7 separate regions of the Homo sapiens genome follow, and all the other regions are linked to region 6. Evidence: fine-mapped expression QTL. A gene starts in region 6. Each other region holds a variant in brackets. All regions are shown on one strand. Distances are from middle to middle.

What was found.
Region 1: its variant is fine-mapped to the expression of TREML2 in blood mononuclear cells (TOPMed, PIP 0.97).
Region 2: its variant is fine-mapped to the expression of TREML2 in B cells (Schmiedel 2018, PIP 0.95).
Region 3: its variant is fine-mapped to the expression of TREML2 in whole blood (TOPMed, PIP above 0.99).
Region 4: its variant is fine-mapped to the expression of TREML2 in whole blood (TOPMed, PIP above 0.99).
Region 5: its variant is fine-mapped to the expression of TREML2 in whole blood (TOPMed, PIP above 0.99).
Region 7: its variant is fine-mapped to the expression of TREML2 in whole blood (TOPMed, PIP 0.95).

The regions. Positions count from the first base shown.
Region 1 is chr6:41,171,988-41,176,295 of GRCh38, forward strand. No RefSeq gene overlaps it. Among named protein-coding and RNA genes, the nearest start is that of TREM2, 11 kb to the left of the region's middle. RefSeq lists a silencer at 2,781-2,900. The variant G/A (reference allele first, on the strand shown) is at 2,257.
Region 2 is chr6:41,313,773-41,318,080 of GRCh38, forward strand. No RefSeq gene overlaps it. Among named protein-coding and RNA genes, the nearest start is that of NCR2, 20 kb to the right of the region's middle. The variant T/G (reference allele first, on the strand shown) is at 1,682.
Region 3 is chr6:41,272,430-41,276,737 of GRCh38, forward strand. TREM1 (triggering receptor expressed on myeloid cells 1) reads right to left here. Exons shown (of 4, transcript NM_018643.5): 4 at 1,176-3,801. The coding sequence ends at 3,696. Among named protein-coding and RNA genes, the nearest start is that of TREM1, 12 kb to the right of the region's middle. The variant A/G (reference allele first, on the strand shown) is at 2,033.
Region 4 is chr6:41,247,755-41,252,062 of GRCh38, forward strand. It overlaps the pseudogene TREML5P. Among named protein-coding and RNA genes, the nearest start is that of TREML4, 22 kb to the left of the region's middle. The variant C/T (reference allele first, on the strand shown) is at 1,844.
Region 5 is chr6:41,113,713-41,118,020 of GRCh38, forward strand. It overlaps the pseudogene ADCY10P1. Among named protein-coding and RNA genes, the nearest start is that of TREML1, 38 kb to the right of the region's middle. The variant G/A (reference allele first, on the strand shown) is at 1,901.
Region 6 is chr6:41,199,353-41,203,660 of GRCh38, forward strand. It overlaps TREML2 (triggering receptor expressed on myeloid cells like 2), which reads right to left and starts at 1,797. Exons shown (of 5, transcript NM_024807.4): 1 at 1,602-1,797. The coding sequence starts at 1,656. RefSeq lists an enhancer at 2,016-2,085.
Region 7 is chr6:41,157,869-41,162,176 of GRCh38, forward strand. It overlaps TREM2 (triggering receptor expressed on myeloid cells 2), which reads right to left. Exons shown (of 5, transcript NM_018965.4): 2 at 3,395-3,745; 3 at 1,924-2,014; 4 at 1,005-1,198; 5 at 640-912. The coding sequence ends at 896. Among named protein-coding and RNA genes, the nearest start is that of TREM2, 3.1 kb to the right of the region's middle. The variant A/G (reference allele first, on the strand shown) is at 2,570.

The sequences.
Region 1 (4,308 bases), 27 kb before region 6:
GGGCACGGATCTCTGCCAGCCCCCACCCCAATCCTTTATTATGCAGGTGGGTCCATAGCCTGGCTACTCCAAGTTGTTTATTTCTTTCTTACTTTGCATGTGCTTAAAAAAAGGTGAGGTAGAACCCCCATGGTGACCATGCCTGGCCCCAGGTAGCCCTTTTTATCTGTGCAGCTGCAGCCATCCCCCTTGTGGAAGCTTCCAGCTTCCTTATCTATGTTTGCAGCCCAATCTTCCAGGCTGCTCTTTGTTAGAAAAGAAGTGATTTCTTGGGTTGCTTTTTGTTAGAAGTGAAGTTCAGCCGAGGACTCTTTGCCCTCACTAACTGCCTAAATAGTTTTTCTCTTTTTCTTTTATTTTTTTTTATTATTATACTTTCAGTTCTAGAGTATGTGTGCACAACATGCAGGTTTGTTACATATGTATACATATACCATGTTGGTGTGCTGCACCCATTAACTCGTCATTTACATTAGGCATATCACCTAATGCTATCCCTCCCCCCTCCCCCCAACCCACGACAGGCCCCAGTGTGTGATGTTCCCCACCCTGTGTCCAAGTGTTCTCATTGTTCAATTCCCACCTATGAGTGAGAACATGTGGTGTTTGGTTTTTTGTCCTTGTGATAGTTTGCTCAGAATGATGGTTTCCAGCTTCATCCATGTCCCTACAAAGGACATGAACTCATCCTTTTTTATGGTTGCATAGTATTCCATAGTGTATATGTGCCACATTTTCTTAATCCAGTCTATCGTTGATGGACATTTGGGTTGGTTCCCAGTCTTTGCTATTGTGAATAGTGCCGCAATAAACATACGTATGCATGTGTCTTTATAGCAGCATGATTTATAATCCTTTGGGTATATACCCAGTAATGGGATGGCTGGGTCAAATGGTATTTCTAGTTCTAGATCCTTGAGGAATTGCCACACTATCTTCCACTATGGTTGAATTAGTTTACAGTCCCACCAACAGTGTAAAAGTGTTCCTATTTCTCCACATCCTCTCCAGCACCTGTTGTTTCCTGCCTTTTTTTTTTTTTTTTTTTTTTTTGAGACAGAGTCTCGCTCTGTCACCCAGGCTGGAGGTGTGATCTCCGCTCACTGCAAGCTCCGCCTCCTGGGTTCACAGCATTCTCCTGCCTCAGCCTCCCGAGTAGCTGGGACTACAGGCACCCGCCGCCATGCCCGGCTAATTTTTGTGTGTGTGTGTGTGTGTGTTTTTAGTAGAGACGGGGTTTCACCATGTTAGCCAGGATGGTCTCGATCTCCTGACTTCGTGATCCACCCGTCTTGGCCTCCCAAAGTGCTGGGATTACAGGCGTGAGCCACCACACCCGGCATGTTTCCTGACTTTTTAATGATCGCCATTCTAACTGGTGTGAGATGGTATCTCATTGTGGTTTTGATTTGCACATCACTGAAAAGCCAAAATTGACAAATGGGATCTAATTAAACTAAAGAGCTTCTGCACAGCAAAAGAAACTACCATCAGAGTGAGCAGGCAACCTACAGAATGGGAGAAAATTTTTACAATCTACCCATCTGACAAAGGGCTAATATCCAGAATCTACAAAGAACTTAAACAAATTTACAAGAAAAAAATCAGTCAACCCCAACAAAAAGTGGGCAAAGGATATGAACAGACACTTCTCAAAAGACGACATTTTTGCAGCCAACAGACACATGAAAAAATGCTAAATAGCTTTTTTCTACCTCCTGTATCAGAGGGTTCGATTCCCACTAATGGAACAGCACTGGTGGACCCCATAGATGGTGGGGCACTGTTTCCCTGGAATGTCCTCATCTAAGCTAGGTCACAAGTTCTTCCCTTTACACCCACAGCACACTGGGCAGCTCGGGATCAAACAAGAAAATACATCCTGAAACCAAAGTGCATCCTAATATTATTTAACCATGAAACTCTTTTAAAACTGTTCTAAATTTCACAACATCAACAGGAGCTCTGGAGTTATAACCTATGCCTGGATTAGAGTAGAAAGCAAAAATAGTCCTTAAGACAAATCAGTTACTACAAAATTTGATTCTCCAATACTTTTAAGCAGAATTTTTAAAATGTCAGCTTAGAAATATTAACTAATTTTAAAAGACCTATGTGTTAAAATTATGACTCAAGGCATAATAGCACTTACTAAGGAGAAGACATACATCAATGATATCAATAGTTACTTGGTAAGTACTTCCATTTTTTTTTTTTTTTTTTTGAGATGGAGTCTCGCCCTGTCACCCAGGTCTC[G/A]CCCTGTTGCCCAGACTGGAGTGCAATGGCACGATCTCAGCATCCTCCGCATCCCAGGTTCAAACAATTCTCCTGCCTCAGCCTCCCAAGCAGCTGGGATTACAGGTGCCCACCACCATGCCCAACTAATTTTTGTATTTTTAGTAGAGATTGGGTTTCACCATGTTGGCCAGGCTGGTCTCGAACTCCTGACCTCGTGATCCACCCATCTCAGCCTCCCAAAGTGCTGGGAGGTAAGTACTTCTTATGCAGTCAAAACAACGTACCTTCTAGTAACGGGCAATTTCTCCCAGGGTTACCTGCCATACTTAGGAGGGACACAGCTTCAAAGGGGATTATATCTATTGTTAAAAGAAAAACCTTAGACAAATTAAATTTAACAGAGTTTTATTGAGCAAAAAAATGACTCACAAATCAGGTATCCCCCAAAATCAGAATAGGTCAGAGAGGCTCCAATCCTATCACATGGCTGAAGAAGATTTATGGGTAGAAAAATGAAAATGACATACGGAAAACAGAAGTGAAATACAGAAGCAGCTGGGTTTCTTACAGCTTGGCATTTGCTTTATTTGAACATAATTGGCCACCTTTGTTTGAAGGAAACTTGGTGATTGGCACAAGAGCAGGTTACAGCCTCTTTACACATCCAGTTACGTTACAATCCACTATGTACTGAAACTTTTAGGCCAGACTTAAAATATGCAAGGAGGCAACTTTAGGCTAAACTTAATTTAACACTATTAACTATATAAAATATGTTAAGCATTTTCAAAATCTTTTAAAAACCATATTTAATGACTTTTTCTGTGAAAAATACATAAAAATTCACTCTGAAAAGGTAAAAGTTGTCCATAACTTCCCCACTGAAAACACTAACATTTATTGAGTGCTTACCATGTGATAGGCATTGTTCTAAACATTTTACATAAAGTATTTACAGCATCATTATAAATCAATGTATTATATTGATGTTAATATATCAATATAGTATGTTAATCAATATTGTAATGCATATTGTATTAACACATTAATGAGTAATGTATTACATCATTACCTATGAGGCAGGTAATATTATTTTTCCAGATAACTGAGACTCAGGGATGTTAAATAACTTGTCCAGGATCACCCAACTAGTAAAAGGTGGAACTTAGGTTTAAACCTAGGTAGTCCGACTCCAGAGCCAGACTTGTTAACAATTTTATTAAGAGTGGAATTTTCTTCCACTCTTATAATCCCATTCCCCAGAGGGAATCACTACTACTAATATTTTGGTGCTTAGTCATCTAGACTTTTTTCTGTGTTTGTACATACATGTGCGTGCACACATACTCACACACACACACACAAGCTTATTTTAGGGCTGTCATTTTTCCCATTTAATATATCGGGGACATCTTTCCATATCAACAAATACAGGCTTACTTCATTCTTTATAATGTCTACGTGGGATTCCCTGGTGTGGATATAGCAATTTATTTAATTATCCTGTTATTAGTAGATATTAAAAGAGTTTCTAAAAGTTGGTTCTTGCAAATTGTAATAAACATGGCTTATTTTTCCTTACATTAAAAATATTTGGAGAAAATATATTAGTAGCATGGTCCTAGTAAGTTCACATAACACTTATTAATATCTCTTGGAAAATCAATGTTTTGTGAAACACTGAGAAGCGAGTCTCAATCCTTTAACAGATACAGTGAGCTTACTCGCCTTCGCTCTTGATTCACTGCTTTTGTGTTACAAGGCTACTGTTGTGTAACAAACCCATCTTTAGTCAATCTCATGCCTTGGATCTCCAAACCATCACCACAGCCTCAAATATCACAACTCCTAAAACACAAGACCTAGAATATCAGGGATCAAAGAGACATGGAGAATCCACTCTTTCACCTGACTCAGCCCCAACTTATCGAATTCTGGTTCTGGCTGAGGAAACATGTCTTCTCAGTGGAGACACTAATGACCTATCAGTAGGCGGGCAAAGGATTAAAGAGCCAGGAAAAACTGGCTCGAGGAGAGATTTGGTTGGGAGATGTGAGTGAGAAGGTAGCT
Region 2 (4,308 bases), 110 kb after region 6:
AGGTGAGGATGGTGACAATGTCCTGAAAACCATGGGATTATGTGAAGAACATGTACCAGAAGCTGAGAAACACTCCAGCCCTCTTCTCCTATTTGGATTCCAGAAAGTTGGCAGCCAGATCTTCTTCCTCCAGACAAGAGATGGGGTGAGTCTTCCCTGGGGATCCTGAGCAGCCCAAGAGAGAAGGCTGAATGATATTGACAAGGCACTTCCTCAAGCAAATGGCCAAGGAGTCACCCTCCTGTGAAACTCCCAGGGCACCAGCCCCACTGTGGGCTCACAGCATCCAATTATCTTTAGAATTTTGTTACCCAGGCCTGAGAAAAAGCTCTCAAGTGAAAGAGAAGAAAGAAACTAAACAGAGAATAGTGAAGGCAACTGGGAAGAAACAGAGACCACCTAAGGAACCATAAATAAAAACAGAAAACTTTTTCTCCAAGGGCTGTTTCCAAAACAGAGGGAGGCAGAGAGAGAATGAGAACAACAGAGAAATGGGAGAGAAAAAAAAAGAAAAAGACAACTGATCCAGGAGGTGAATGCTTGAATAAAAGGAGTTCTAGAAAGACAGAACATAGAAAACAGAGAGGGGAAAATCATGCATGAACTAATTCAAGAAATTTTCCTGTGAATTTCTAGATCGAAAAGGCCACTCACTGTGCGGAGCAAAGGGATGGAAATAGACACACTCCAAGGCTCATCCCTGTGACATTCCAGGACACCGAGAACAAAAAGAAAACGCTGATAAAGTGAAGACAACAGATCACATATTGCCATAGTTATCATAATTGCTCCTGACTTTTCAACAACAATAGGAGCAAGAAGGTAACATAGCAATGCCTTCAAAATCCTGAGGACAAATTGTTTCCAACTCAGAATTTTTTATATCAGTCAAACTGTCATGGTAAAACAGGCATTTTTAAATATAAAAGTTGTCAAAATGTATTTTCCATTCCCCCTTTCTCCCGTAGTTACTCAAGGATGGGTTCCACCAGTACAAAGGAGTAAACAAAGATCCAAGAATCAAGAAAACGTTGTAGAGGAGACAAAGAGAAGCCCCAGAAACATGAGGAAGAGACAGCTGTGTACCAACTGGTGGAGGCAGTGCATCCATACAGGGCAAAAAAAGGCTGCAGGCATGACTTTTTAGGAAGATGCTCAACAAAATACTTGCTGAGAAAAAAAAAAACAAAACTTAGAAATGCTGGTTCCAAAACATGTGCTTTTGTTTGTTTGTTTTTTCTTGTTCTGACTTTTAATTCATTACACCACTGCTCTCCAAGAAAAGGCTATCAATTATTCCCTTCCAACAATGCATAAGAATGACTTTTTCCCTACTTCTCCAGGACAGAATATAATTATCATTTATTTTAATCTTTTTTGAACTGTTAAAAAGATAAACTGAGGCACAGTAAAATTTTAAAGAGTTTTGGTGAGTTTTTTTTAGCATGAACAATTTATGAACTGAGCAGCTCCGAACCAGAAATAGTTTGGGAGCTCCACTGAGGAACACAAAGAGGAGACTTTTATAAGACAGACACAGAAGTAAAGCAAAGTATTTAATTGGTTACTGTTATACAATTGCTTTTTTTGGTCTCTCAACTTGGAAAGCCCCTCGTTATCTAAGTTTGTATAAATAGTAACTTCTGATTGGTTGAGCTTAAGTTCTGCTTTTAAAAATATA[T/G]ATATAGATATAGATATATATAGGCATTCACAAGAAATAGCTCAAGTTAAGTTTGGTTATGTTTGCAAATCAAGCAAGGTTTAGGTCACTTACAAATCATAACTTCTTTTGTCCCCTCTGGGATTCTTCAGGTCTGGTCTCCATTTTAATTTACTTTAACAATCCCACCGCGTTGGGTCACCCTCTCAGCAAGCTAAGAAGAAGGTGGTAGCATTCCTCTCAGTTACCACTAGTGAAATAGTCACTGGAACAAAGAGTCATGTAATCTTATCCTCAACAGTTGTATTGGGATATAAGATTACATGGCATCATTACCTGCATCATGGGCTTCAGTGGTAGGGTTGTTGAGTTCTTCAAGTCAATTAATGATGATGGCAATCATTTGATGTGTGAGTGCCTTCTGGAAAGCTTTGAAATCCTTGAGAGGATAAGATATAGTAGGATGGTAAACAAAATGACTACAGAGAGAATAATAGCCAAGGATTTTTAAATTCCCTGGAGCACAGATTCCCAGGAGCCAATATTTCACCAATAAAATAAATCAGTGGAGGAGGCAACACCTGTCTGATAAAAGACATATTTGTTCCTTAAGATCCTTTAAATTGGGCTCAACAATTTCTAATTTATTAATATAGAAACAATATTTTTTTTTACAAATAAGAGCCTCCTTGTTAAGTTGCTAAGGTATCAAGGACTTCTATTTTGGAGTACTATTGAGGTTAAATTGTTTATTTCAGATAGTATTGCTTGAAGGGAATTCAAGGTAGCATTCTATAAAAACAAAAGAAAAAAAAAAGGTTAACATTAGGAACAAATTATGATCTTAGTCTTTAAGTCCAGAGAGCAGCCTGTCAAGATTTCTAAATTTGAGTTTGAAGCATTTTTAGATGATGGAATGAGGATGGCAATTGCAACCTGATGGATTTTCCTGGCTTGCAGTTTGAATGTCTCTGGAAATATCATCAGGTGTTCCAGTGAATTCTCCAAGTGACCCACACAGCAGCAGCATGAAAATTTTCCATACATGGTCTGTTGTAGTAATTTTTCTGAATTTAAAGTCATCCAATTTCAGCTGGCAGGGCTTCGGAAAAAAGCAGTTTTAGTTTCTAGTGAAACTAGAAAATGTTAGGATTCAATCCAATTTACAAGGACATAACAAAGACCAGAATTTGATGATGGGTGCTATAGTTTTCTATTGAAATACAATCTTTTTTATGGTCATTCCAAATTTTTCCAAAAATAATCATGGTTAACTCTTCTTTTTGTGCAAAATCAGTAGTCTCATTAAACTTGATCTGATTATTTACATAAGTGCAACAAGAAAAGTGATTCTATGTATGCATATTTTTAAAATACATCATTTTGTCAAAGTTTTGATAATATCCAAGGGGCTTTATTGACTTTGTATAAGTCAATCTTAGTTATTTGTTCATTTTATTGTTTGTTTTACTATTTGTTAACAAGGAATCTCAGATTAGACCTTTAAAAACCTCTCTAGGCTAGGAGGCCAAGTTAAGGACTTACCCAATTATGTCTTGTTATAAGAACAGATTCTTATTGAACCTATGCAAATACCTATATTGCCATGAAAATAAGAATATTCAATAAGTGCTTCCAAATTATGGGGTGATCAGGTAGGGAGGAAAAAAACGTTTTCTTTTTGTTTACAAAAGTATATTTTATCAAATTGTTTTAAGTTATAGAAAAAAGTTTTCCTAAATCTAGAAAGCAAGACATTAAAGAACCAGCAATGTTTCAAACGAAAAGTTATAAAAATTATAATTATTCTCATCAGTTAATTTAGTCTCACATAATTAATTTTTGTTTTGCTTGATCTTGGGTTAGCAGATTTATAAATACATTACTTTTCCATTAGAGGTCTGGAAATTCTTACCTAGCCTTATAGTATGAGCTTAAAATTATCAGAAACCTGTACTCATCAGCCTTTATCATGAATCTCTTACAATTCTGTGTCATGCAACTGACAAGGGAGTTTGGTTGCTTTGGTAACATACGACATTTTAACATAATAATTAAAATTATGGATGATAACATTATACTAGTACATATCAGATTTCTAGGAATTTGACATAATTTCTGGAACACTCATCAATAACAAACATAACTTAAAGAAGGTTTAGCATCACCCATTATTTGACATTGCTTCTCATGCAATTTAACATATCAAATAAGCCTCACTAGTTTAACATGTCTGTTTTTACAAGAAGAGAAGATAAATTCTTTTGAGATATTCCAGGGACCCTTTTGGACACTCCCAAAGTTGGTTTGAGGTCAAAAAGACCTATATGGCATGGCCAGTTCTAGGGGTAAGGTTGTGTCCATGCCAGTGTGTGGCATATGGCGATGTTCAGCTAGCATGAGTCTGAATTAATTACCACACATAGGAGCCAGAGTAAAGTGTTCCCAGGCCATCTACCCCCAACCAATGTCCCCACTTATTACTGCAACCTCTTACATCTTCTATAACATGCTCCAAAAAGTACGCACAACAGTAATCCCCCAAATGCCAAATACCACATTATTTCACGTTGAACAGTCTTGTTAGTGCATGAGTTCGTGTGCAGCACACGTGGTATTGTACACAAATTATATTTCCCTTCTACACT
Region 3 (4,308 bases), 73 kb after region 6:
TTCAAGCCTTTCTGCTACATCCTCCCTCTTTAATATCACCCCGCACCATGGTTCCCAAGGACAGGCACGTGGCTTCACTCAGGAAGTGTGGCAGACATACACACCCAGGCTCCACCACCAGATATTCTGACTTGGCAGATCTGGGAAGGGACCCAGGAATCTGTATTTTAGCAACAGCTTAGGTGGTTCTGAGGCAAGGAGTCCAAGTTGACCATGTCTGCAAGAGCTGCATATAGGTAAGATGGACCCTGCAGCATGTCTCGGTGACTCAGGGGCTTTGCCTGAGTACCAGGTATGGGCTTCCCTGAGCTAACCTGTCCAGGCACAGGCATGGAGACCCCAGTTATAACAGTAATAGCAGTAACCACCATGGATTGAAGTCCTACTGTGTGTCAGGTGCTTTACTCAGGCGTCTCCTTGGATCCTGTCAACATTGGGAGATGGTATAATGGAGGTGTGTCATCTTTTGACTCTCCAGTACCAAACACCTTTTTCTTTTGGGGGCACAGGCCCCAATGTGTGAGTTTCACCAGATGCAGAGTTCTGCTTCCCCTTCTATTGAGGATGGAAGCAGCTATTCCTCCCACCCTTCTCCCGGCAGCTGTGCTGCAGGCACGTGACTTGACCTAAGCCTGGCCACATGCATGATTCTGCCCAGGACCCCAGATCTGCGGATGAGGCTCAAATGCAGGGCCAGTTGCAGATTACTTACTCAGAGGCAATTTAAGGATTCAGAGTCTAGGAATAGCATGGTGGCCTCCAGTATCCAGGGCAGTGGCATTGATGGCAACATGTCCAGACTGTCTCATGTGGCCTCTGCTGTCCATTCTCTCTTGGCTTCTGCCCATTTTCTAAACCCAATCCCCCAGCCTCTCATCAACTCTGAGTTACTGATATCCCCCTAGAATTCCCTTGCTGTTTTAGATAGCCAGAGTTGGATTCTGTTGTTAGCATCCAAAATCATCACTGGCATGGTTAGGCACTATCATGCCCATTAAGGCAAGGAGGAATATTGAAGCCCAGAAGGTTAACTGAGTCACCCAGGATCAGACACCCTGCAAGGATGCAGAGCTAGATTCAAACCCATACATGGTTTTCCTCCAAGACCTGTGTCGTTAGCCACACAACACTATTGTATCAGTCAAGATAACAGCAAGACACCGCTGGCTCATTGAAACTGGGTAATTGAGGAGCATTTAATAAACATGTGCATAGAATTTAGGGAATCCAGTAAGGGGTGCTTCAGTATGCTGAGGCTGGCAATAGTGGTGGGTCATTCCCACTGCTGGGCCTACAGAGGAGAGGATGGAACAGGTGGCTGGACTTGGAGATGGGAGCTGTTTGCTGAGAGGCTTGAAGGAGCCTTCAGAGGGGAATGCAGCCACTCCTGCCACCACCTGCCAGGGAGGGAGCCCTGAGGACAGAAACCCTGATCTGACTGTCTCCCCACCCTCGGCTCTCCTCTCATGCTTCCCATTGGCTCAACCAGCCAGAAGCTGGCAGCCAGGGAGCCTGCTGGTTTAGCCACATTGGTCAGGTTCCCAGGCAGGATGGGGAGGATGGAGCATGGCGTGGCCTGTAAGTGCAAATGGGAGAGTATCCAGCACGGCCATTTGTCTTCCGATTTAGTGCATATAATATTTCAGTCACGTTTAATATGTTGGACTTAAATAACACTTGATCTATAATAAGTTAAGCACACAAGCATGCACTGGACCATGCAGTGGGTTATGTCTGGATGAATCTGTATGAATGTGTCATGGGCTTTGGTAAGGAGTGTAATGACTTTTTGGAAACAAGCTTGAGATCCACTAAGAGGGAGCTGTATACTAGTATACAGTAGGTCTGCAGGGGCCCTGGACTCATAAAGCATTTGCTTTATGCTCCAGGAGAATCTGATGCGGTGGCCTAAAGACCTCTGAAAAACATTGCCCTCATGTGTTCTGCCTCTCCTAGAGTGTATTTAATGATAATACCCCCTTGCCCTGGTCACTTTGTCAACTTCATAAACAGGAACAATGCTGGGATTGCT[A/G]AAGTGTGGGGTTCCAGACCAGCAAGCTCAGCATTATTATAAACACTGCATCCTGTACAGTCACTGCCTCTGAGCTGCTTGGTTCTTTTAGGTAGGAAAATAAATGCACCAAGATTAACAGCTTCTGGATCTAGTGCGTCTGCAAAGATTCTCACCAGAGCATCAGGATGAAATAAATGCCCACCACACACCTTCTAATGGGCTCAAAATTGCGGTTCAGAAATCATCTCTCTAGGGTCATTACCATTACCTGGGCAGGTTCTGACAGAGCAGCATTTAGGGGAATGGGGAAGTCCTTATGCGATGGAGCAGTCTGGAAGCTGGACCTCCCCGTGCAGGGAACTTTTTCCACAGAAGTGGTGCTCATTGTAAAAATACATTTACCTAACATGAGACACACGGTATGTGTGGAAAAGTATGATTGCTCTTGGGAACTGAGGATAATATCTGCCCTGGGCATCACTAAATTGGGCTGGAAGGACCCACCATCCTTTCCCCACCCATGAGGCCCATTTCCCTTTAAAGCTCAAAGTAGGAAATAACAAAATCCTGATTGAAATCTGTGGGAGATTGCAAGACAATCTCCCACAGAGATTGTCTCTGTGGTGGCCTGAACACCTACCTGCTTCACCGGGGAGGGCACTGGAGAGAGCATGGAAACTGAGGCAGGTGTTCCAGGAGCAGACTGAGAGAAGAGGAGGAGGGCAGAGTGGGGAACTAGGCAAGCACATGGGGACAGCCTCCAGAAGCCTCCCAGGGGGAGAGCTTTTACTCCACCATCCCTGACCCTTGTGTGATACAGGAAAAGAGGCATTTAGACACAGGCGGAACTCCTGGTTATTCTATTCTATATGGTTTTGGGGTCCTTCAGGTAAGGAGCGCTTCAGTTTTCACTCCTGCCAGTGGGCAGTGGCTTATTCATGTGGCCTCGTTCTAGTCACATACATTTCTGCCTTCACGGGGCTATTTTCAGGATCCAGCGATAAATGCACACAGGATGTCTGACATGGTCTGTTGTTGCTCTCCTATGGATCCCATCTCGGCCTGCCAGTATTTCCCCAGAAGAAGATACTCAGTTTAACTCTTTTCTCTGAGAAGGATGCACTTTCTCACCACGATGTCTTATTTCTCCAGGTTCCACAATCTTCAACACCCTTTTCTGGGAGTGTTGGAAAGAACCACACATAAGCATGAAACCCAAGTGTCTGATGCTAGAAAGAGGAAGTCCCAGCATGGGGCGAGCAGGATGCTTCTGTAGTGGGAGCTCTGTCCAGGTCAGGCCAAAATTGTATGGTCCAGGGCAAAACTGAGCAGGAGAAGTATCAGGTGTGCCTTCTGCATGTCACAGCCCCCACAAGAGAATTACGGTGAAAAGCATTGAGCTGTCTGTATTTCATGCCAACCCCAAGTGGCTGGTGGAATGAAGGACCAAGCATGTTTGGGGCTGTAACTTCTTTTCTGAGGCACAAATGCCCACCCAAGATTATTAGAGGAACGAGGGCAGTGGGCAGGAAGGTGAGACGCTGACTTTAGAAATAGCCGGTGATTACAGATTTAATTCATGTTATTAACTCCCTGCCTTTTACCTCCTCCCTCCTCCCTTGGCACAACTGCCAGATGGATGTGGCTGGAAGTCAGAGGACATTCTCGTGGGTTCGTGGGCCTAGGGTACAAATGACCTCAGCGTGACAGCAAACAGGACAGAGAAGACCAGGCTCTTACTCAGGAATCCACCAGCCAGGAGAATGACAATGTTGAACACCGGAACCCTGCGGGAGACAAGAGGCTGAACGCTACTGCTGGCAAAGTCTCTCCCACACGCACATGTTCCCTCTAGAAAATGCCTTCATGTCCCACTCTCCTCTGCTTAGATCCTTGCTCCACCTTTCCCGCACTGCCTGACCCTGTGCTTTTCAGTCTGTCTCATTGCCAAAAACTACTGATTAGAAACAATTCAGTGGAGAGTATAGGTCCCTGTCCAGGAGAGGCACTGGAGGGAGACAGTCGGGCTGATCAGCCCATCCTCCTCCCTGTGATGTGGTAGGGAGAGAGGACTCTGGCCAGGAAACCCGCTCTCTATTCTCAGTACCGTACCCTGCCTACTGGGATGGTCATCTCACCTCTTTAGCTCGGTTTCCTCACCTATAAACCGAGAAGAATCCACCCGTAGTGAAAATCTCATCATGAATTTTATAGATTTTGGCGAAATGATTCTAAGGTTTCTGGGTAAACATCAATAGGTATCATAATAAAAAGATGCAAAGGAGTGAGGGCAC
Region 4 (4,308 bases), 48 kb after region 6:
AAGAGGTTGGGGCTGACTTCGTAGCTCTTTACCAGAGACCACTGGGCATGGTGGGGGTTGGCAAAACTCACTCCCTACTGCCTGTGAAAGGGGTGGGAGGTGTAGGCACACATGAACACAGTGCCCTGGAGACCCATCCCAAAGTCACCCAACTCTGCACCTCCCAGGGTCAGAGAGGTTCCTCCCTCTGCCACAGCAAAAAAGGGTCTCTCCTGTGCTAAGAAATTCTGGGCTCATCCACCATGCAATGGAGTTGGATCATTCTGCTTAGTTTACAAAGAACAGAGTGATGCTCAGAGAGGGTGCTGCCTCACGCAGAGCCTCAGCTCTAGTGGCTGCTGGCAACTGGACAGATGTCCTGGGTTCTGGGCCCTTGACTATCACAGCTCTGGGTTCCACTGGAGGATCTGGGAGCCCCCAGCGTGTGGGAAAATACAGCATGCATTGAGCACGCACTGTGTGAAAAGCACTGACCTGGGGCAGAATTCTCACAGCAACCTGTGAGGGATGTGGTGCTATTCTCACTTGACTGATGCAAAGACAGAGATTTTAGGTGCCCCGATCACACCGTTAAGTGGTAGAAACAAGGTTTTGACCCGTGTTTATTTTGATCCAAAATGTGTGCTCTCTATTCTGTACTATGGGGGAGAGTCTTTTTATGTGTGGTTTTGTGGGAGACTCTGGGGTGAAATTATCAGAAGAGTCAGCTGAGCTTAGGGCAGGCAGAGGGGTGGAGGGAGCCCACGGCAGCTTTCTCCCTCTCTCTGTCCCCTGAGTCACCTTGCACACCCCAGTTCTGCTCTCTCTCTACCAGACTGTGGATTATGAAGGCTTGGACCACATCTTACTCCTCAGCATAGAGAGAAAGATATTGCAGGTGGAAAGTGAATAATTGTAGAATCCTGTGGTTCATACTCCATTGGGAGTTTGTTTACATGTACATTTGGACAGGCTTGATCTATGGGTTTTATGTAACTAGAATACTTTAAAACTAAACACCAGCTAGAATGAACTAAGGTAGGTTATTATTTAAAGAGGACTACAGTGAACCTATTTGTGAAATAAATAACTATTAATCATTTTTTCAAACACTGGATTTTCTTATCTACCTAATTAGTTGGGCACTGAAATTTCAGAACTTAATGACCTGTGTTTGTGTCTCTGCATCTTTCTCACTGGGTTTTTCCCACAAGAATGTCACTCTCCCATCAGACTAGAAAATACCATGAGGAAAGGGGCTGTGTCTGATGGAGCTCCAAGTGTAAGTGCTGCATTTCCTCCATTAGACTGGGGGCTCACTGTGGGATATACCTGCCTCCTCCATCAGACTGAAAGCTCCCTGAGAGGGGGACCTCTGTCTGCCCCCTAATACTGGGAGCTAGCTGTTTTCAGGGCCCATTTACCTCCCTTCAGACTGGGGCAAGCTCCCTGAGGGTGGGGCTGTATTTCCCCCTCAATCTGTGGGTTCCATGACAGCAGGACAATATCCACCCCGCCCTTCACCATGATCTTCAACTTTCATGATGTCTTCTTCCTCTCCTCTTGCCAGACCTTATTCAACAAGTCTTGTCTCCACAGGCCCCTCTGCTGGGAGCGCATACACAAAAGTGAGGCTCCTTGAAAGGGGGACTCTGTCTGTGCAGTGCTTCTGTAAGGGCTACAAAAACCGCATGGAGGGCAAGGTTTGGTGCAAAATCAGGAAGAAGTGTGAGCCTGGTTTCACCCAAGTCTGGGTGAAAGGGCCCCGCTACTTGCTGCAGGACGACGCCCAGGCCAAGGTGGTCAACATCACCATGGTGGCCCTCAAGCTCCAGGACTCAGGCCGATACTGGTGCATGCGCAA[C/T]ACCTCTGGGATCCTGTACCCCTTGATGGGCTTCCAGCTGGATGTGTCTCCAGGTGAGCGGGCTGCAGGGGCACTGGGACGGGTGGAGGGAGTCCTCCCTGCCCCACACTCCACTAACATCAGAGATAATAAGGATAATAATCCATCAATGGTCATGTTGCACTGTAGTGTTTTCAAAGTGCCTTTATGGCACTATTCGTGGCACTATTGTCACCATTTTACAGATGAAGATAATGAGACCTGAAAACCCAGTGTGACTCTGAGCTTGTCCGGGGTCCCAGAGCTAGCAGGTGGCTGAGATAAAGTTCAAACTTGGCACTGTCTGTGCTGTGTTTTATTCACTCATTGCTTCAACATAATTCACTGAGCCCGTATTATGTGGCAGGCACTATTCTAGGCTCTAAGGAGACAGTAGTGAGCAAAAACAGACACAATCTTGCTCTATAATAATTGCAAATAACAAATTTTTGTAAGAAAAAACAACACTTGTAAACAGGAAAGTTAACTCAGTAATGCGGGAGCTGTGGAAATACTGAGGATCAGAAAACACCTCCCTGAGCAGATGACACCAAGCAGACCCCTGAATGGTGAGCATTCTCCAGCTCTGTTGAAATCTGGGTGCTTTGAAGGGCACTTTGTGGCAAGGGCTGCATGTGCAAAGGTCCTGAGGTCAGAAGGTGCTTGGCTTGTACAAGAAAGACTTATTTGGCTAGGTGCAATGGCTCACGCCTGTAATCCCAGCATTTTGGGAGGCTGAGGCAGGTGGATCACCTGAGGTCCGAAGTTTGAGACCAGCCTGGCCAACATGGTTGAAACCCTGTCTCTACTAAAAATACAAAAATTAGCTGAGTGTGGTGGCATGTACTTGTAATCCCAGATACTTGGGAGGCTGATGCAGGAGAATTGCTTGAACCTGGGAGGCAGAGGTTGCAGTGAGCCAAGATTGCACCATTGCACTCCAACCTGGGCAGCAGAGTGAGACCCTGTCTCAAAAAAAAATAAAAAGCAAAGAAAAAAATGCTTATTTAGTAACTCCATATTGAGTGCAGGACAGTGATTGATGAGGCTGGGAGTCAAGCAGCCCTGAAGCCTATGAGATGAAGTTTGGGTGATTCTAAGTACAAGAGGAAGCTACTGGAGAGCTAAGAGAGGTGTGTCACAGCTTATTTTTAAGTATGTAGTGGCCACTTGTCGAGGATGGTCTAGGGAGGGTATGAGCATGGGCATGGAGGCCATTGTGAGCACAGTGGACAGAGTTGCTTCCCAGCCTGGAGGGCGAGGCAACCTCTGTAAAACACCAGTACTAGCCCTCCCAACATTTACAGGTGGAAAGCTGGTGCGGGAAAATATCAGCCAATACATGTGCCATAGTAGGGGACAGTCCCAGGACAGCGGCCTGGGACCCTCGATACTTCATCCAAGATGATCGCTTCTATGGCGTCTTCACCGTCACCATGACTGAGCTCAGAGTAGAGGCCTTGGGATTCCATGGGTGTGGAATCTCTAAATCCCCTGAGATCTCTATTGTCAGAATCATCTGCCTGGTGGTATCTCAAGGTGAGTTCTGTCCCTTCGTATTTGTGGGTCTCAGACTTCCTGAATCACAAGGTGTTAGAGCTGGAGAGGATCCTAGAAATCTTCTCCTTCCACCTTCTCATCACTGAAAACTGGGGACATGGAGAAGAAAAGCCCCTGGCCTAAGGTCACCTGCTGCTGAAGGGCAGAGCCAGCCCCAGAATGCAGGCCTGCTGGCTTTTGGTTCTTCCTTCCACATCGTACGTATCGCCCTTAACATTTTTGCTGCTACTAACAGGACTCCTCCATTTATTTGGAATGAGTTTAAAGTTTCCCCATGCTTGAGCACAAAGGGCTTAATGGTCCATTCCAGACATCCCTACCCTTGACTCTAACTGCCAGCATCTTCTCAAAGGGCTGTAGTCAAGAAAGATCACTGAGTAATGGGGTGGGGGGATAAATGTGACATAGGAGATAGCCAAACAATGAGGCTGACATGAGACTTAGGGGGTGAGGCTGGGAGGTGTAGTAGCCAGGGGCTCAGGGGACCTGGATCCTCTCCCTGGACCTGCCCTTATCAGTTGAGAGTCATTAAGCTTCAAAATGAGAAGCTAGGGGTCACCACTAATCCTAAGGCCCCTGGGCATTCCCCCTGAAATTAGAGTTGCCAAGCTCTCCTGCCTTTTTCTGTGATGGTTAGAAACAGTGGTGCTTTTTCCCTGCTGCTGAGTGTGCCCAGCCACTTGGTCAAATGGGCATCTGGAGGACCCCAATAAGCTTCTCTTTCTTCACTGCCCAAGCTTTGGCTCACTGCCCATTCCCTGGAGGGCACAGGGCTAAGCTAGGCCCTGGATGGGGACTCAAAAGCCTTGAGATCCCATCCGGAGCTGGAGGAGCCCACAGTTGGGCCAGAGAAACAGCATGTGATGAAGGGTTATGACGTAAGGTGG
Region 5 (4,308 bases), 86 kb before region 6:
TAATTACTAATTCAATATCTCCCAAAGTGTGTTTGGTAGAATGTTATTACTCCCTTAATATGCTCATGAAAAAAGAAAAGATTTTCATCACCAAATATGTTTGGGAAGTGATGCAAATTATATTTCCTTCTTCAAGGTTCACAATGAACATTAACATATCAAAGGTTCTGAGTAGTGCTATGGGAAAGAAATTTGTTATATTTAGTTTTAGTCAGCATTTCCCAAATTTACTTGGTCATCAAACACTTTTCTCCAGAAAGACCTATAAACATCCAGAGGAACTAATGTTCTAAGGAAGATATTTTTGGAAATGCTGAGCAGATGCTAAAGCTTCAGAGGTACCTACGTGGCCTCGGTAGCAGATACCATTGCTCATTTCTCTCTGCATTACATGAGCTCTCAGACCCAAAACTACTTTCCATGCCTTCTTTTTCAAAGACCCTGTTCACCTTGAGATATCCTCTGAATTCCTCTTCCTAATCTGAGAAATAGCTCCAGCTTTTAGCTCATTTAGAGGAAAGATGATTCCATGCATATTTCTTCAGGATATTTTTGAGACATAGGGAGTGCAGTCTCAGAATATCATTATTATGGTTTTTCAGTACCAGAAATACTTTATATACAATGACATATATCAAATAAAGAGTACATTCTTTATCAATGCAGAAAGGTTTTAAAGGAAAGAAGGAATATGGATTGCCGGGAAAAACAAGGAGGAATTATAAAGTATAATAGAAAGAAATAAGAAATAACTAAGTGATAAAAGTATTATTTGTTCATTATTGACTTGCTAATAGCTGAATTTCTGGCATGCATAAATGCATTCATTCAACAAGCATTCCTTGAACACAGTTATGAGCCAGGCACTGTGCTAGGTGCTATGGACATAAAGAGAAATAAGATTTTACCAGTTCAGCTAAGTAAACAACTAACTTTAATACAACGAAATTAAAGTGCAGAAATAAAATGCTACAGGAGTTACAACAATGTGCTATGGGAAGAAGTGGTTAATTCTCCACAGAGGTACCAAAGAAATCTTGACTATAAAGATGACTTTTGAGACAGGTTGAGAAGAAAAGTAGTTCAGCAAATGGAGAAGGTGGGAAAGGGTATTTAGGCAGAGGAAGCATCATGAAATTTTAAAAGATTTTCAGTCTTGCTCTTCATATGGCAGCAGAACTGACAGCATGGTCTTGTCTTAAGTGTCTCTTTTTTTCACCCTGGGGGCAGTGAGCTGAGTGAATGAATGGTAAGAGACTTTTTTTTTTTTTTTTTTTTTTTTTTTTTTTGAGACGGAGTCTCACTCTGTTGCTCAGGCTGGAGTGCAGTGGCACAATCTTGGCTCACTGCAACTTCTGCCTCCCGGGTTCTAGAGATTCTCCTGCCTCAGAATCCCTCAACTGGGATTACAGGCACACACCACCATGCCCACTAATTTTTGTATTTTTAGTAGGGATGGGGTTTCACCATGTTGGCCAGGCTGGACTCTTGAACTCCTGACCTCAGGTGATCCGCCCACCTCAGCCTCCCAAAGTGCTAGGATTACAGGCATGAGCCACAGCACCCAGCCAAGAGCCCTTAATCCTGTCCTTTGAGGAAGACAAATAATTTTGATGGCTTAGGAGGTAATAGTGTTAACATGATTGCTACTTCTCATGTTGTCTGAACCACTGAAAATTGTTTATAGATTTAATGTGACTATGCCTCATTGCATAATCTTTCTCCACCTACATATCTTGTTACCTGTCACATGAAATTTTCATGTCAGTGAGTAAATCTACTTATTTTGTTATGTATGAGTTGCTCCTTGCCACCTTTGGGCTTTTGCCTCACCTAGAACAGTATATGTCCTCTTTTAAAATAATTCATATGTCTAATACTCTTCCATCCCTAGAGAGGT[G/A]AGACTACTTCTCCCATTACCTCTCTCTAATCCAAACACCTCTCTTCACATCTGTGCTCTAGCCGTCTTGAAGTACTTAGTTTTGCATGACCACACAAGGCATCTCAAAGCCTTTACCTTTTCCCACCAGACAGTACCACTCCCCCACTTTAGCAATTTCTTCAGCTTTCAGGGTCCGACCAAATGTCCTCTCCTTTAAGAATACTCTATCTACTCTTCAGTGTGAATTAGTGCATCTGTTCTGTTTGCTCTGCTAATGTGCTATATCAATCTCTAATATGGAGTATTTGTCTTGCTGACATATATAAGTATCTCTTCCCCTCCCTCAAACCTACCACCCTCCTCCCCAAACTTAACTTCTCTAGGGCAGGATATTTTAAACATCCAGCCAAGTACTCAGTACTATGCACACTTCTCAGTGCTTAGTGAATGAAATGAATGTATGTATGCATTAATGAATTTTTAAAATATTACTCATTAAAAAAAATTTGTTCCAAATGTTAATTTACTTCAGAAAGCCTTCTGTCTGCAGTCCTGACATTCTGATCACTCCTTAACTGTGACATTCTAGCATTATTTGATCTATTAATCCTGTATTGATATCTCTTTATCTACTTTCATTTTTCAGTTTTATCTGAGACAACATGGTATAGTAGAAATAATATCAGTCTAGGAGGCAAGAGGCCTGGATTCTCATTCTGACTTACTGTTCGTTTTTGCTATATAACTCTGGGAAAGTTAATTAACCCCTTCAATTTTTTTTTCTCAAATGGTTTTTAAATATTTGCCTTACCACAGATGTAAAATTTTTTTTTTTTTTTTGAGATGGAGTCTCACTCTGTTGCCCAGGCTGGAGTGCAGTGGCACAATTTCCACTCACTGCAAGGTCCGCCTCCTGGGTTCATGCCATTCTCCTGCCTCAGCCTCCCGAGTAGCTGGGACTACAGGCGCCCACCACCATGCCTGGCTAATTTTTTGTATTTTTAGTAGAGACAGGGTTTCACAGTGTTAGCCAGGATGGTCTCGATCTCCTGACCTTGTGATCCACCCACCTCAGCCTCCCAAAGTGCTGGGATTATAGGCGTGAGCACCGCACCTGGCCCAGATGTAAAATTTTTAAAAATCTTTTACTGGCCAGGTGTGGTGGCTCACACCTGTAATACCAGTGCTTTGGGAGGCCAAGACGGGTGTATTGCTTGAGCCCAGGAGTTTGAGACCAGCCTGGACAACATAATGAAACCCCATCTCTCTCAAAAAAAAAAAAAAAAAAAAATTAGTTGGATATGGTGGTGTGTGCCTGTAGTCTCAGCTACTTGGGAGGCTGAGGTGGGAGGATCACTTGAGCCCAGGAAACGGAGATTGCAGTGAACTGAGATCACACCAATGTGCTCCAGCCTGGGCAATAGAGCAAGACCCTATCTCAAAAGAAAAAAAAAGAAAGAAAATCGTTTACTAATAACCCCCAACTAAAACTAAAACTCCTGAATTAGGGGAACCATTCTGTTTCTTTTGGTTCTCTCCCTAATATTCAGTACTTTGTAGCCCTCATGTTATATAGACTGACAGCAACCTCTGGCCTTTTCCATTCTAAGCTCTAAAACTAGACTTCTGGATCTGGGGAGTGGCAGATCTAGTGCCTGACTTGGAGGCTTCTGACTGTATGTTTATCCATTGTTGCTTTTCAGATCCCTAGATTTGTTTCCATCAGTATCACTAATGGACCAGTATTCTGTGGCGTGGTTGGAGCAGTAGCAAGACACGAATATACAGGTAGAATAGGACATTGGACTGTTATCTTTGTGACTTAAGGGAGGAAGGTGGAAGACATGGCCCAAAAATTCTCCACCTGTCTTTCTGACACAGTTATTGGCCCAAAAGTGAGTCTTGCGGCCAGAATGATAACTGCTTATCCAGGTTTGGTGTCCTGTGATGAGGTAACATATCTAAGATCCATGCTACCTGCTTACAACTTCAAGAAACTCCCAGAGAAAATGATGAAAAACATCTCCAACCCAGGGAAGATATATGAATATCTTGGCCACAGAAGATGTATGTGAGTATCATTGTGTGATAGTTTCATTCTCATCTCTTACAGAACAATAAGTTTTTGATTACATGAAATTGGAAAAAAAGATGCTGCTAGTACTGGCATGCTGGAATAAGACACACAAAAGGAGTGTTTAGTGTCTGAGAGATTTAGCTTTTATGTTTAGCTCTTAGCTAGTTCTTCAATGAACATCCTTTTCTCCTACAGGAAGAGAATAGCAATAGGTCACTAACCCAGATCTTCTTTGTTCTTTTTTTCTTTGTGTACTTCACCATTCATTTACTTCCCCGAGCCTGGAACAATCAATAATATTCCCTCTTTACTCCCTCTCCCCCAAAATTTTTAGTTTTTAAAAACCTTT
Region 6 (4,308 bases):
ATAACTCTCCTTAGTTCATTCCATCTGGTGTTTAGTTTTAAAATATTCTAGTTACATAAAACCCATAGATCAAGCCTGTCTAAATATACATGTAAACAAACTCCCAATGGAGTGTGAACCACAGGATTCTACAATTATTCACTTTCCACCTGCAATATCTTTCTCTCTATGCTGAGGAGTAAGATGTGGTCCAAGCCTTCATAATCCACAGTCTGGTAGAGACAGAGCAGAACTGGGGTGTGCAGGGTGACTCAGGGGACAGAGAGAGGGAGAAAGCTGCCTTGGGCTCCCTCCACCCCTCTGCCTGCCTTAAGCTCAGCTGACTCTTCTGATAATTTCACCCCAGAGTCTTCCAAAAAAACCACATATAAAAAGACTCTCCCCCATAGTAGAGAACAGAGAGCACACATTTTGGAGTCAAAATAAACAAGGGTTGAAACCCTGTTTCTACCACTTAGTGGTGTGATTAGGTCACCTGTTTGATACAGAAATATCAAAACAGACACTTGACTGATACAGAAATATCTCTGTTTCTTTATCAGTCAAGTGAGAATAGCACCACACCCCTCACAGGTTGCTGTGAGAATTCTGCCCCAGGTCAGTGCTTTGCACACAGTGCATGCTCAACTCATGCTTCCTTTTCCCACATGCTGGGGCCTCCCAGTTCCCCCAATGGAACCCAGAGCTGTGACAGTCAAGGGCCCAGAATCCAGGACATCTGTCCCACCAGAATCCAGGATATCCGTCCCAAGTCCCAGCCAGCAGCCACTAGAGCTGAGGCTCTGTGTGAAGCAGCACCCTCTCTAAGCATCCCTCTGTCCCTTGCAAACTAAACAGAATGATCCAACTTCATTATTTGGTGGATGAGCCCAGGATTTCTTAGCACAAGAGAGACCCCTTTCTGCCCTGGCAGTGGGAAGCTGTTTCTCTACCCTCTGGGAGGTGCAGAGTTGGGTGACCTTGGGATGGGTCTCCAGGGCAATGTCTTCATGTGTGCCTACACCTCCCACCCCTCTCACAGGCAGTGGTGAGTTTTGCCAACCCCCACCATGCCCAGAACTGAACAGGAAGTGGTAACTTGGTTGCCATGGCAGCGAGAGGGGCAGGAATGGGTGAGGTTCCTCAAGGAGCATTGGTATCTGTGAGGTGGGAAAGGCATTCACACACTGGTCCCTTCAGGACAGAGGCAGGGACAGGATGTGGCATCAGCATTTCAAGAAAAATGTTCAAATTCAGTTCAAAACACACATGATGCAATGATTGCTGTCATAACTAAGCAGGGCTTCCTGACAGAGGCCAAGCAGAGAAAGCTATTTGTGTGAGGAAATTGAGGGCTCTGCTTTAAAGCCTGAGGAAGCCTAGCAGATAAAGGAGCCAATGCAGAGAGGGTCCAGAGCTTTATCTTGGCTTGGGAGGCCTGGGTTAGCTTCGCCTGGGGCCTGATATTAGGGTAAAGAGCTAAGTCAGCCCTAATCTCCTCCTTCCCCAACCCACAAAACACTAAACAAGAAAACTGCTGGTAAGGAGGGTAAGAAAAAGGCCCTGAGCTCCTGCCTCTGTACCCACTCCCTCCTCCACAAGTCAGCCCCTTCTCCCCTCACCTGAGACGCAACCCTGTGGCCACAGCAGCAGCAGCAGCAGGAAGGCTGGGGCCATGGTTCCATCCAGCTGGGCAGTGTCAGGCCTGGAGATCCAAGGTGAGGGCCCACCCGACACAGGATGTGCCACCTGGGCCTGCCAGGGAAGGACCCGGGGTTCTAAAAGTGAAGCTGCCCATTTAGGGAAGTGAGGCAGTGTGGGACCCACTGCCCCCAGCCAACCGCAGGGATTCATTGAGCCTATTATGAGGGCGGTGCTGGCAGCTGTTTCCGCCCTTTTCCTCGGAACTTCAGGCAGGTGTGGCTGCTCCACCCAGTCTGGGGCCCCAAGCCGGGAGGACTCACAGTCAGAGGGCTCCCCGCCCTCCCCAACCTCCCCCAGAAACTGGTCCCTAGGATCCAGCAAGGGGGCTGGGGTGAGGCTTCTGGAACGTCAGGTATAGACCTTCCTGGAATCTTCTGGGCTCAGAGACCCAGGGGTGCGGGCTCTTAGGCTGAGATGGAGCATCTCAGACCCTAGTTTCTTACATATATACATTCACAGGGAAGTTCTTATAAACTCTCATTCATTCATTCATTGCAGATTCTTTCTGTTCCTTCCTCTCTCTCTCTCCCAGGCTCCTGGCTGCTCAGAACAGTCACTTGTGTTCACTGTTGCAAATAACCTCTTACAGGCTCACTTGAAATCTTACTTTTGTCAAGCGGGAAAAATGCAAATTGTTAAGACTCAGGGCATAAATTTTGGGTTGAGGGAGGGGTTCCTGTACTCTCACACACAGGTGTGCATGCACATGCACTCACACTCACAGTCTCACTTTGTCTTTTATTCACTTTCACACACACACACACACGCCCATGCACACAGTCTCACACACACCCCAGCAGCCTCTCCTTTTCCCTATCCATACGTCTCCTCTCTCTGTCCCTCTCCCTGCCTCTCCTCCTGTCGACTCTACTCACCATCAGCTCCCTCTAGACTCCTAGTCCCTCGTGCAGGCTTCCTACAGCCTCCGCAGTACTTCCCCTCACCCACCTCATCTCAAGACCCCCTTCCTCCCCTGCCTCCAGCCTACGTCAGCACGCAGGCAAGTGCCCTCCACTTCCTCCTGCTCAATGCTATCTCGCCTGTACAGCCACCAGCTCCAGTGGAAATGACCCAGCACTAGGCCCAAGACCACACCCTTCACTTACCCCAAGGCCTAGAATCAGAAGCATCAATTTTTGATGTCCGGTACCTGTGTCATCTGCTCCTTCAGTGTGTGGGGACCCAGCTGGACTCCCGTGATTATGTATGCTCCCCCTACTCACTAGTGCCATGTTTCTACTCCTTAGATGGGACTGTCAAAAGGTAAACTGAGGCACAATAAAATTTTAAACAGATTATTTCAGCAAACAACAATTCATGAATCAGGCAGCTCCAAACAGAAGAGGTTGAGGAGCTCCACTGGGGGAATGCAAGGGGAAGACTCCTACAGGACAAGTAAACTGAAGAAAATATTTAATTAGTTATAGTTATATAGTTCCCTTATTTGGCCTATCCTGTTGGAAAGACCCTAGTTAATTATATAAGTTTCTTTTGATTGGTTGAGCTTAAGTTCTATTTTTCCTTAATATACACATTTACAAGAAATAGCTCGTGTTAAGTTTCACTGATATTTGCAAATCAAGCAAAGTTGAGGTCACTTATGAGGCCTAACTGTTTTTTTAATTTTTGCTCAGGGACTCTTCAGGCCTGGTCTCCATTTTCATTAATTTTAACAGGACTCAGAGCAAAAAGTCCTCAAGCTTGCATGGCCACAATCTTAAATTGACCTTGAAGCCCCAAGCTCCAAGCAAAGAAGTCTATCTCGGCTGACCCTAAGCTTTTGTAGTCTCTCAACTCATTCACTCACTCATTAATTCATTCATTCATTTGTTCATTCCCACAACCTCATTGCTATGCATGGGGCTAGGTAGGCACTGGGGGCGTAGGAATGAGACACGATTGTCACTTGAGACCTCTCAGCTCACAGACGTGTTTTGTTTTCCTTATTCACCCTTCCTTTTTCAATGTTTCTCACCCAGTCCTCAGAACTTCCTGAGCTCCCTGAGTTCAGGGGCCATCTCCCCTCCCCAGCACACACAGTAAGTTCCTCCATCCCTTCCCCCATCAGAACAGTAAGTTGCTTCAGGAGTGGGGGATTTATCTCTTGTGGGGACTTTATGCGCTTGGAATCCATGATTCTATGAAACTGATACAGTGCGCCCAGCACTGAGCCAATCATCGTCTAAAGTGTGACCCTTGGGATCACTGTGCTGATGAGGGTAGAAAGAATCAAACATTCATTCGCTGATCGAGGAAGTATGCACTGGATTCAATCTTTCTTAAGAGAAATTTGGAAGCATTGGTCAAAATCATTAAAAATACGTATACATTAGACTTTTACATCTATCATTTGATTTAATACAGCAGTGTATTTTGTCTTTATATTTATTTTTCCCATTTAAAAATTAAGGCCTAATTTACATACAGTACTATTCACCCTTTTCAGTGACGAGTTCTGGGAGTTCTAGAGACTTGTATCCAATGCCGTAATGGAGACAGAGAAGAGTGCCATCATCCCGAAAAGCTTTCCTCTGCTCCTTGTTAGTCATCCCTTCAGTCCCAGACAAACACTGATCTGGTGGGGTTTTTTCCTGTCATTTCTCTCTTTCCAGAATGGAAAAGTGA
Region 7 (4,308 bases), 41 kb before region 6:
TCAAACTAATACTTGTTGAACAAATAAGTAGGAGTGAGTCAGAGGAAAGAGCACCTTGAATGCCAAGTGAAATTTGGATTTCCAGGCTCTACTGGGGATTTTGGGTGGGGATTTTGGGTAAGTTCCTTTCCCTTGTTGAGCCTCAGTTTCCCTTCTATATGATGAGGGGCTTGAACCATCAGTTCCCAGTTTGATAATGCTGTACATTATCAAGCCCTTGTCATTTCTCCGAAGGGGAAATGATATGATGAAAACAGAGTTCTAAGGAGATGAATGGATGAGTCTGCCAGGAGTTGACCTTGGTGGGGAAGAACTGAGTCAGCTGGAGGGGGCCTTGGGGCAGGGAGGTTCCATAATCCAGGGGAAGCTGATGGAGAGGGTGAATGCTGGGGAGGAGAGCAGAGGAAGACTGGGTGCTAGAGAAACCCCAGAGGAGGAGGCAGAACTTGGCGATCAGATCTAGGGAAGGGAAGAGAGAGAAGAAAAAAACTGACTGGCTGATTGAGCCTGTGAGAATGGAGGGATGTGGTATCCTATGGTCCTGGGCCTCAAGGAGCAAAATCTCTTGTCTTTTTCTCATCCAAATTCATTTTCTTACCCCTGTGGAAGAAAATGAGACTTTCATGATGCCCAAAACTATCCAGCTAAATATGACAGTCTTGGATTTATTTGTAAGTGTTTAAAATGTCCAATATTCAGAAGTTGTCAGGTGTTCTTACCACCTCCCCACTCCCTCAACCAGTCCCTGCTTCCAGGGTCCAGGAGAAGCAGTGTTCAGGCAGAGTAGTCTCTTGCCAGAGCAGAACAAGGAGTCCTGGTGGCCAAGTGGCAAGTATGCAGGCTGGGCTGGTCCCTGGTGGGACTTCTCCTGGGCTTTTCCTCCCATCATCTTCCTTCACGTGTCTCTCAGCCCTGCAATAGTCCAAGGACTCATGTGGCCCCTCTCGGCACCGCCTCCCATCCCTGCCCAGTCCACCCTTGATGGCTGTGCTCTCCAAGCCCACCTGGCAGAGTTTGGAGCTGATACCCTGGGTCATGGCCACAGTCCAGTTCACTGGGTGGATGTGTCCCTGGCTTCTGTCCATGCCAGGCTGCAGCCCAGAGGGCGCTGGCTGCTAGAATCTTGATGAGAAAGATGCAGGCCAGGAGGAGAAGGATGGAAGTGGGTGGGAAGGGGATTTCTCCTTCCAAGAGGCTCCTTGGAGAGACAAGAAGGCAGATGGGAGCCTTGAGATGGCCTACAGATTAGAATCTTCTCTCAGGGAATGGGGAGAAACCAGGAGCTTCTAGGACCTCAGCAAATCCCACCCAGCACCATCCCTGGGATGGGCCTTTTTGGAGCTTTGGGAGCCCATAGTCAAGAGACTTGAGTTCTAGGCATGCTCTGCCACTAACCTGCTGAGTGCACTTAAACACACCACCTTCCCTCACTGAGCAGTTTTCTTCTGTATACAGTGCTATGCCATGGGTGTGTGTGTGTACACACATGTGGTTATATGAACAACGTTTAAACACCAGTACACAGGCATGGACCAGTCAGAACTGATTCTGGTCCTACCAATGAAGCAGAGATCTGGGGGTCTTAGCTTTGTACTAAAGTACTAAAACATTCATTGTTGCTGAATTATGGGGATGTCTGGGGGCTGCCAGGGGAGGGGCGGGAGCTGATATTCAGGAGTCGTAGAGCAACTGCTCTTTACAAAGCATTATGGAAGTCTTCCAATAAATGAACAACTGACACAGTCACGCTAACTAACTAACATGTAGCAGCTGGTGGAGGGGTGTTTACATAAGAGATATCCAGGGCCCTTCAGGCTCTAGTTGCCTTGTAATTTGTAGTTCAGGATGCCCAGCCCCCACCCCCGTGGGGCTCTGCAGGGTGGAAGTCTGCCCACGGGTTTTAGGAAAGACCCATCGCTGTACCTGGAGATGCTGTGCTCCACATGGGCATCCTCGAAGCTCTCAGACTCCCCGGGGAACCAGAGATCTCCAGCATCCCGGTGATCCAGGGGGTCTATGGGAGGCAGAGCCATGAGCCTCCAGCCCCTTCCTCCTCGAGGCAGGGGGAGAACCTTGGCGGGAGAACCTTTATGGGTGGGGTGAGGTCCCCTGGGCACTGGTCCTATGTGGATCAGGTCATTACACTCCATAAGCCTCAGTTTCCCCACTTATAAAGTGGGCCGTTAGGAACACTTCCTTAATAGCAGGGTTGCCAGGATTCCGTGAGGGCACCTCTGTGCCGTATCCAGCACCTCATCGGAGCTCAGTAACTGCAATGCCCCCCTCCTTCCGCACAGGGGCTAAGAAGAGCAAATACAATCGTGGATGTACTTGAAAATCCTATCTAAACTGTCAAGCTGTCTACACAAGCTATGGGCTACTTTTATTTTTCTGTCTCCCTCTTGGGAGGTGGCTAAGGGAGTTCACTGCCACCGGCCATCCTTAGGAAAGTGGTGGAGGTGGGGTTTGTGTCTATGACTGGCAGTCTCCCCTGGCCTCCCCAAGTCAGGCAAATACTACTCCTGACCTCATTTCCATGGTAAAGAGCCATACTGGGAGAAGGGGTTGG[A/G]AAGGAGGAGAGTCAGAAAAGGCCTTTGTAGCCCCAGATTTGTTCTCCTTTGGGGACACAGTTGTGTTCTGCAGACTCAAGCAGAAGGCCTTCCTGGAGGGTGGTCCCTGCGCAGAGCTCGGGGGTGGAAAGGAGACACCCTGGCCCACCTACTCACACCTGGAATGACGATCCCAAGACAGTTCAGTAGCAGGAGGCTTGGAGCACATGTCACACCCTGCCCCCAACGCCCCCCGCCAAATAAAAACTCACAGGAACCCTATGGGGTCAGCAGGACAGACACCACCCTCTCCATTTACAGATGAGAGAATGGAGGCCCAGAGAAGTGAAGCACATTGCCCAGCACAAGCAGTGTTCCTTTCTAGGGGTGATTTTCTGCACCAGGTTGGTGCTTCACTTACGTTGATAGGGCCATTGGTTGGTTGGTGAGGGAATAAATTAATCTCCTCCTCCTTAAGGACCTCCTATCATGTTCACATGCTAACTGGATGGAGATGGATAAAGCTGTTTGGGCAAGGAGGGCCAAGGCCAGGCTAGTTCACAGAGTGCCTTAATGCAAAGTAGAGAAAGGTGCCCTTCTTGCAGGTGATGCAGCTCTGCACCAGGGAACACAGTCTGGCAAAAGGAGTCCGGGCTGGATTTTGGCCCCCTTGTATAGTGAGCAACCTGCACAACTATCCTTGGTAGCCCTGAGTAGGGAGATGAGACCATACGATGGGTTTTCCCAGGATCCCTGAGAGCCCAGTGGGTGGTTCTGCACACAGACGCCCAAAACATGAGGCCTGGAACAGGGGCAGGCCAGAGAGGCAGCCACTGCCCACTCACCTGCCAGCACCTCCACCAGGACCTTCCTGAGGGTGTCAGCCTCACTGCCATGGAGGCTCTGGCACTGGTAGAGACCCGCATCATGGGGTTGTAGATTCCGCAGCGTAATGGTGAGAGTGCCACCCAGGGTATCGTCTGTGATGGCTGTGCTCCCATTCCACCTCCTCAGGAAGGACAGCAGCCACAAGTTGTGCGTGCTGACCACACGCTGGCATGGGCCCTTCTCTCCCAGCTGGCGGCACCAGGCCTTGCGCCTCCCCCAGTGCTTCATGGAGTCATAGGGGCAAGACACCTGCAGGGACTGGCCCGCCACGCCCTGGAACACTGTGGTGTTGTGGGCTCCGGACAGCTCTGGGGAGGAGACATTCATTCACTCCTTTGTTTACCAAATACGCTTTGAACACTTGCTCTGTGCAGTGACCTAAACAGACAAAAATCCTGCCCTGAAGGAGCTTAGGTTCTTATACAAGTTGGGAGCGGATGGCACAGCATGTGTTTGTGGGAAATTGGGAACCAGGAAACCTGGGACCTGGGTTTGGTTTTCTCACTGTTGCTCTTGCTGGGCCTCCTTGGAGAAGTAACTGACCTTCTCTGGGTCTATTCTGGAGGCACTTGGTCTTAAAACCCCCTCCAGTTCTGTTCTGCACATCTCTTTGCCATCATTTGGGACTGGGACCTCTCCTCTCGGCCTGGGGCTGGCTCTCCCTGCCCCGCCACTCTTGCTTGCTCTGCAGCCGCCCACATTGGTACCGACTTTCCTGACCTTTAACTTCCAGCTTCCCTATTTCTGTGGCTTTGTTCCCCTTTCAGGAAGGACCCGTCTCGGAGATATTTTGGGGGAGACATGAGGCTGCTATTTTGGGAACCCTCCTTAGGGCGGGGGAGATGGGCTTAGAGCACCAGCCTGTTGCTGG